Regions from separate parts of the Homo sapiens genome. Here region 1 is reported to be linked to region 2. The links are microRNA targets in miRTarBase. Many come from high-throughput screens and were not tested one by one. Region 2 holds a microRNA gene; the other region holds the end of a gene's coding sequence.
What was found. The annotated mature microRNA hsa-miR-455-3p reads GCAGUCCAUGGGCAUAUACAC and lies in region 2 at 2,652-2,672, opposite strand. An mRNA with a match to its seed (bases 2 to 7 or 8) in the 3' UTR can be bound and repressed. Matches are read on the target gene's strand: a 7mer-m8 pairs with bases 2 to 8, a 7mer-A1 pairs with bases 2 to 7 and ends in A, and an 8mer does both.

Region 1: miRTarBase lists TRIM45 as a target of hsa-miR-455-3p. The part of its 3' UTR that is shown has no 7-base or 8-base seed match.

Annotation. Positions count from the first base shown.
Region 1 is chr1:117,109,817-117,112,816 of GRCh38, forward strand. It overlaps TRIM45 (tripartite motif containing 45), which reads right to left. Exons shown (of 6, transcript NM_025188.4): 6 at 1,244-2,637. The coding sequence ends at 2,489. Among named protein-coding and RNA genes, the nearest start is that of TRIM45, 10 kb to the right of the region's middle.
Region 2 is chr9:114,207,770-114,212,158 of GRCh38, reverse strand. MIR455 (microRNA 455) reads right to left here and starts at 2,725; the gene lies at 2,630-2,725. COL27A1 (collagen type XXVII alpha 1 chain) reads right to left here. Exons shown (of 61, transcript NM_032888.4): 11 at 2,431-2,484; 12 at 1,133-1,177.

The sequences.
Region 1 (3,000 bases), not on the chromosome of region 2:
TGGAAAGGTGGGAGGTTGTGGTTGCAGGATGCCTGAAATTGAGACTATGCAGAGGGTGCAGTTGGAATCAAGATCTAGGGTATGTAAGGCTAAGTAGGGAAAAAATAACACTGGGGAAATGATCACAGAACTAAGAAGTCTGTGTAGACAATGAGTTATCCCAAGATTGATAAGGAGTTGTACCAGAGTCACAGCAAGCTCAATGCTATAATCTTCAAGGAACGAAGGGGAACAATTTGGGGCTCAGTAGATGGCTGAACCATGGAGGAATAGCAAGCTGTATAGCTGAAAGGCATGAGCTCCAAGGCTGGCCATTTTTAGAAAAAAAGTAGGGCTAATGCTCTAGAACAGGGTTTCTCAACAGCGGAACCACTGACATTTTGGATTGGATACTTCTTTGTTTCAGGAAGCTGTCCTGAGCATTGTAAAATGACTAGCAGCATCTCTGACCTTTACCCACAAGATGCTAGTAGCACCTTGCCCCAGTAGTGGCAACTAAAAATGTCTCTGAGACTTTGCCAGATGTCCTCTTAGGGGCAAAGTCACTCCTGGTTAAGAACCACTCATCTCGGCCAGTCATGGTGGCTCACACCTGTAGTCACAGAACTTTGGCAGGCCAAGGTGGGCGGATCATGAGGTCAGGAGTTCGAGACCAGCCTGGCCAACCTGGTGAAACCCCGTCTCTGCTAAAAATACAAAAATTTGCCGGGCGTAATGGCACATGCCTGTAATCTCAGCTTACTCTCGGGAGGCTGAGGCAGGAGAATTGCTTGAACCTGGGAGGCGGAGGTTGCAGTGAGCTGAGATCGTGCCACTGCACTCCAGCCTACGTAACAGAGCAAGACTCTGTCTCAAAAAAAAAAAAAAAAAAAAAGAACCACTCATCTCAAAGCAGCAGTAATAAGCTAAAAGGACATATACTTCTGGGCTGAGTGACAGAAGGAGTGAGGAAGAGCAAATAGCTAATAATTTGAGAGGGTGACAGGCAGGAATGTGTTTTGGGAAGATCAGATTTGGGTTACAGAAAGAGGCTGAAGGGAATGTTTCCAGAAAAGGGTGAGAACGCAGAGAACATCTTAGTATTTATGGCTATAATGTAGCCCATGTCTGTCAGCCTCAAGGAGGAAATGTATTCCACAATGATCTGACAGTCATCATCTAATCATTCACTTCCTTTACCTGACCCAATTCGCCAAGTGAGTCATCCACTTCTTAAGGGATCTTACAATGCAGATTTCAATAATTATATTTAATACATGCTGAGTTTATTGCCATATAAGAAATCAAGAGTTTCAGAAGAACACACAAAATATATACAGTGAAGACCTTGGCAGGGCTGAGGCACCAGTGCTGTGTACATCCTCTCCCCAAATTCTCCAGCAGCTAAGAAGGCACACTATGAGTGAAGGCACAGTAAGAGTCAAAGCTCCCAGTTAACTTTCTAGGTATATAGATAACAGTGAAGACTACTCTAAAGACTACTCTACTAAAAAACAGAGCTGTGAGAAGGATGAAGGTGTCTAGATTTTCTGTATAAGTAGAACTGTAATAAATGTATGAGGTTCTATTTCAACACCATTCCCCTTTATTAACTTTCTATTTGTATGCCCTTGACCAAAGAGTAATCTTCCAGGCTTTGGGGCAGAAGGCTGTCATGGCATAGAGACGGAGTAGGGGGACACCACCAAAACAAGATCACATTATCATGATCACAAAACATGTACCAGTAAATCCAATGAAAGTATGCTAACAAAAAGTGGACAGGATGAAAGGAGGTTTCTAATCTCTAGGGGAAATATCTAAATAATGTGTAGCTCAGAGAAAAATGAAAAAGGTCATAATAGGCCAGGTGTGGTGGCTCATGCTTGTAACCCCAGCACTTTGGGAGGCCGAGGCAGGTGGATCACGAGGTCAGGAGTTTGAGACCAGCCTGGCCAACATGGTGAAACCCCGTCTCTACTAAAAACACAAAAATTAGCTGGGTGTGGGGGAAGGTGGGGGGGAACCTGTAATCCCAGCTACTCGGGACACCAAGGCACGAGAATCATTTGAACCGGGAGGCAGAGGTTGCAGTGAGCCGAGATCATGCCACTGCACTCCAGCCTGGGTGACAGAGTGAGACTCTGTCTTTAAAAAAAAAAAAAAAAGAAAAAAAAAGGGTTATATCAGAAAGGAACTAAACTACCTAGACCCTTCAGTGCCAATGGAATAGATACCTCCATACTGTACAAAATGAAAAGGAGTATCCTGTGGTAGAAAAAGAACGTTGCCAACCTACCTTTAAGAGAAATGTAGAGGTGGTTTTTTGTGCTCAACCATCCACAAGTACAATCAGTGAATAACTAACAAAAGAGCACTTGAACTCCAGTGCAAGATAAGGCACTTTGTTTTTAATTCTATCAGTCTCTTTAGAATGAACGAAGGTCTGGGTCCTCTGGAAATCTCAAGTGGTGCTGCCTGCAGCTTTAAAAGGCTGAGCACAAACCCATCAGAGAGCCACAGTCCTAAGTAGACTCCTCGGTGCGCTCTGCCCACCTGTCCATGTGCATTCAGATTTCTCATTAAATTTTCCACAGCATGACCAGTGGGGATGACCTGGGTGGCCTTTGTGTCCATGGCCACAGCCTAGGTACCCACCTACATGGGACAAAGAGGAAAGGACAAAAATCAACCATTAGCGTGGAGGCCAGCAGTTACCATTATCATGGAAATTAGACCTCCTGGCAACATGCAGATTCATGGGAGTGAAAATATCTAAGAAAATCTTGGCAAGAGGAACAAGCTGTCTGACTGTTGTGCAGTCAGGAGGACCCTGAGAATTGATCACAGCAAATCAACTCATGTTAGCCGGAGTTCTAAGAATGCTGTAGTGATAGAACTTACCACCTGAAGGAGGCGAACTAGTTTGCACATTAACTGTAAAATAAATTGGTTTGGATTTTAACTGTAAAATCATTGAAATAAAAAAGGATAGGTTGGTGGACATTAAAAAAATAGAGG
Region 2 (4,389 bases):
CAGAGGGGTCTAGGTTGGGGGTGGAGGGACCTCCTCTGTCAGCTCTTTGAGGCTTTTTTCTTTTCTTTGTTTTTCCTCTTTGGCCCCCAGAGGGCCCAGGTTAAACGCTCCAACAGCTAACATGCCCATCAGTGGCAGAAGCACGGAGAGGCCCCTCTGAGCACTCTCGAATGCTCCAGGCCTCCTCTTCATACTCCCTTCCTCACCAACCACCAGCGATGGGAGGCCCAGACTTGGTCTGACCATGGTTCCAAGTCAAGGAGTCAACCTGCAGGGCAGTGGCAGAGGGACCCTGGTATCTCATTCTGCCTCTCAGAGCCTCAGTTTCCCGCTTCTCAATAATTGGAATGAATGATCTTCCTTCCAGGCGAAGAGTCTAGGGAACCTATTTTTATAATATGACTGCCAACTAGGGACCCTGAGAGGCTGCCTCAAGCAGCCACTGAGATCAAAGACACCGGGAACAAACCAACTGAGTTCCAATCCTGGCTGCATTGTTTACTCATCGTGCAAGTGACTTAATCTCTCCGTGCCTTGGCTCTTTCTCCATGTTCTGCACATGTCCAAACAAAGGGAAAAACAATTTCCTCCCATGATGGGGAGCCATAGAGAAAGCTGGTGAATTGGGGGTCACCGCTGAGCCCCTCTTTCGGTCATGCCTGCTGTGGGCACTGCCCATAAACCCCATTGTCCTCTGGCTTTGCGTGTGCATGAGCAAACTGGACAGAGCCGGATGACACCAAGACGATGTGGAGACTGAGTGTTCCCTGAGATGGGAGCAGAGTCACCTGGTCTAGCCAAGGTCCCCCGGTCACAGCAGACCCACAGACACAAATACCTTAGACAGAAGCCCCCAGACACAGAACTGCACTGGAGAGCCACTGATGCCCACAGGGAGACAGGAGCTACCCCAGAGGGGTCCAGAGCCCATGGAAGCCCCAGCCCCAGCCAGGCCCCAGTCACGCCGTGTGCCAGCAGCAGGTCCTGTGGCCAGACAACCCCACATGCGGCCCCCACACTCAAAGCAGGGGGAGAAGCAGAAGATGCCAGGCAGCAGGTGGCCAGGGCAGCGTGGCCGTGGGAGGTGGGGTTCCCCGCTAGAGTCTGCGTAATAGACACGGAAAATCTTTACCGGCATACCCATCTTGCCCCTCTTGCCAGGAACGCCAGGCAGGCCCTGCAGGGGAGAGACAGGGGAGAGGTCAGGGCAGGATGCCAGCAGGGACAGCCAGGCTTGCCCCAAACCAGCCCAGAGCCACCCACGGCAGGAAGTCACAGAGGGCCTGGAATGTGTGCCACTTGCGTGGCGGCCCCAGTGACATGCACATCAGACGGATGGCAGGGTCGGGGTCTGTGGTGACCTAAGAGACAGAGAAATGCCAGTTCCTGTAATCAGCAGGTGCTTCATAAATGCTCAGGCTCCAGCTGTCCTAAGGTTCTCTATACCCAGCTTATGGAGGTTACAAGTGAGTTCCCATAGATACGGGCTCAGGTTGGGAGGGGGCGGGGAGGAAGATCCCGAGGCCACCACCCCAGGGGCTTCTAATGGACCTCCAGGCTGGGCCAGGGGTCTGTGAGAAGCTCCCACACCATCTTTTGGACTCCTCTGACTTAGATACTTGGTCTGGAAGGACAGGGTGTCTTAGGAAATCTTAGCACCCACTGCCCACCACCAAACCAGTCCCACCACCTTCCCCAGACAGCCGCTCCCCCTGGCTGCTGGAACTCCTGCCACCTGCTCTTGCTGTCCCCACCCCCAACCAACACATTTTACTCAAGTAAACCAACTGATCTGTCTAAAAGAGGAATCAGCAGATGGTTTCTGGAAAGGGGCAGATAGTGAATATCTTTGGCTCTGTGGGCCATACGGTCTCTGTCACACCTACTCAACTCTGCCATTGTAGTGAGAAAGCGGCATTGACAATATGTAACCAAATGAGCAAGGCTGAGTTCAATAAAACTGTTTGCAAAAACAGACAACTGGCTGGATTTGGCCCATGGGCCACCGTTTGCAGACCCCTGATCTATATTATAAAGTGGGCCCGGTGTTCATTGGTTGCAAGTCCTCAAGAGGCTCCGCATACCCTCAGAACAGAGTTCCTTTTCTAACCTTAGTCCTGGGCACCTAAGACATTGCCCCAGGGTCCTCTCCAGCCTCAACTCCCACCACTCTCACCCTCTCACGCAGCACTTTGGCAGTGTTGAGTGTTAAACTCGCCAAGTTACCGTAAATCCCTGACTTCGCACATGCTGTTCCCTATGCCTGGAATGCATCTGCCTTGACTTGTCCCCTTATCAGACTCCTACTCGACTCAAGTGCACCTCCTCCAGGAGGAATTCCTTGACTTCCCCAGGCTGGTGCCTGGCAGGTTCTGCTCTGTTTGGGCAGGGGTGGCTGTGGATGGTGAATAACCAAAGAAGCAAACTTACTCGTTCTCCATCAGACCCTGGCAGGCCGAAGAGCCCTGGGAGCCCAATGTAGCCCTAGGAAAGAGAAGAAAGGGGGTCAGAGCGGTCAAGCAGTGAGGTGTGGCTGGCCCAACCTGCCGCAGCCCACCCACCACTGCCATCCCACATCCCGGCTCCTCCTCTTCCTCCCTGGTGGCAGTGGCAGCTCCGGTGGCTCCTCGATGACATAGGCCTTGAGGCAAGTGTATATGCCCATGGACTGCATGGTGCTGGCTTCCACGATGTAGTCCAAAGGCACATACCCTCACGCCAGGGAAGGGCGCAGGCGCTCGCCGGCAGGAGGCCCGCCCCACGCCAGGGCTCCAGGACCTGCAGAAGGAAGCTCGCGGCTGGGTTAGATGCTAGCACGGCACCAAGCCCTGCCCACCCCCAGGGATGCTGGTAGGTGCCCGTGGCTCCTGCCATGGCTCCTCCTAGGCCTTCAAGGTCCTGGATGTAGGGCTTACATCCACCTCTGGCCGCCTGAGTGCTGGCATTAACTAACAGCGGCTGCGAACCCGGAGTGCCAACATTGTGCCAGGCACATGCATGCTACCACATTAGACTCTCACAAGGACCCCCCAGATTGTCACCACCCACACTGGACAGACAAAGAAACTGAGGCTCTGTAGATAAAGCAACACGACTAGTCAGTAGTGGAGCTGTGAATTCTCTTCGGGAATTCCTAATCAGTTCAAGGGTCACCCAGGGCCAGCTGACTCCACAGCTGGGGCTCGTCACCATTCTGGGGCTCTTCCCTAGGATGCATCTCATTTCCTCCCTCCCAGCCTTTCCTCACTCTGTCCCCTCCACCAGGCATGTCCTTCCCATCCCTCATGACTTCTGAGCCAAATCCTTCAAAGCCCAGCTCTCATAAGCGCTCTCCTTGGGCAAGCATCCCTGATACCCCAAGCCGGAAGCAATCTCTCCCCCCCATCCCCAGTGCCATTTTTGCACCTCGGTAGCATCCTTCTCCACTTTCTCCCTTGTATCTTCATTATTTGTGTTCATGCTTCACGTCCTCATTAGCCTGGGAACTTCTAAAGGGCAGTAACCTCGCCCGGGGCTTCTACCACTATCTGCGTGCCACTCTTGGTGGAATGATTTAATAATAACTCTAACAAAAGCTAATGTTTATTGAGCACGAATGATAGGCCAGGCCTGCTGCCAGTGCTTTGCATATATTAAAGCATTTATTCCATCCTTATCACACCCCGAGGAAGTATTATATTTTATTATTTTTTTATTTATATATATTTTTTGAGACGGAGTCTTGCTCTGTCATCCAGGCTGGAGTGCAGTGGTGCGATCGTGGCTTACTGCAACCTCTGCTTACCGGGTTCAAGCGATTCTCCTGCCTCAGTCTCCTGAATAGCTGATCACAGGTGATCACAGGTGTGCACCACCACGCCCAGCTAATTTTTGTAGTTACTTTAGTAGAGACGGGGTTTCGCTATGTTGACCAGGCTGGTCTCGAACTCCTGGCCTCAGGTGATCCACCCGCCTTGGCCTCCCAAAATGCTGGGATTACAGGCACGAGCCACCGCGCCCAGCCCTGAGGAAGTATTATTACTCAGCCCCCTGTAGAGGTAAGACCATTTAGGCCCAGAGGGGTGAAGCAACTTGCCTAGGACCAAACAGCTGAAATGTGGTAGAACTGGTATTCAAATTCAAGTCTTCTGACTCCTGGGCCTGGGCTCCTAACCACTCTGCATACTGCCTCTCCTCAAACAAGCAACCAATGGAGGCTCACAACCATCTCTCCTTCCCTGGAAGGCCAAGAAGCCACTGAGCCTCCTCGTTGGCATCCAGCATGATTAATATCCATAATCTGAAAGAGTGCCATTTACTGCCATTCCAAATAGTGCTTATCTCCCAGATTTACAGGTGAGAAAATAATTGGCTCAGAGAGGCCCAGTGACTTGCCCAAGCTCCCACAGC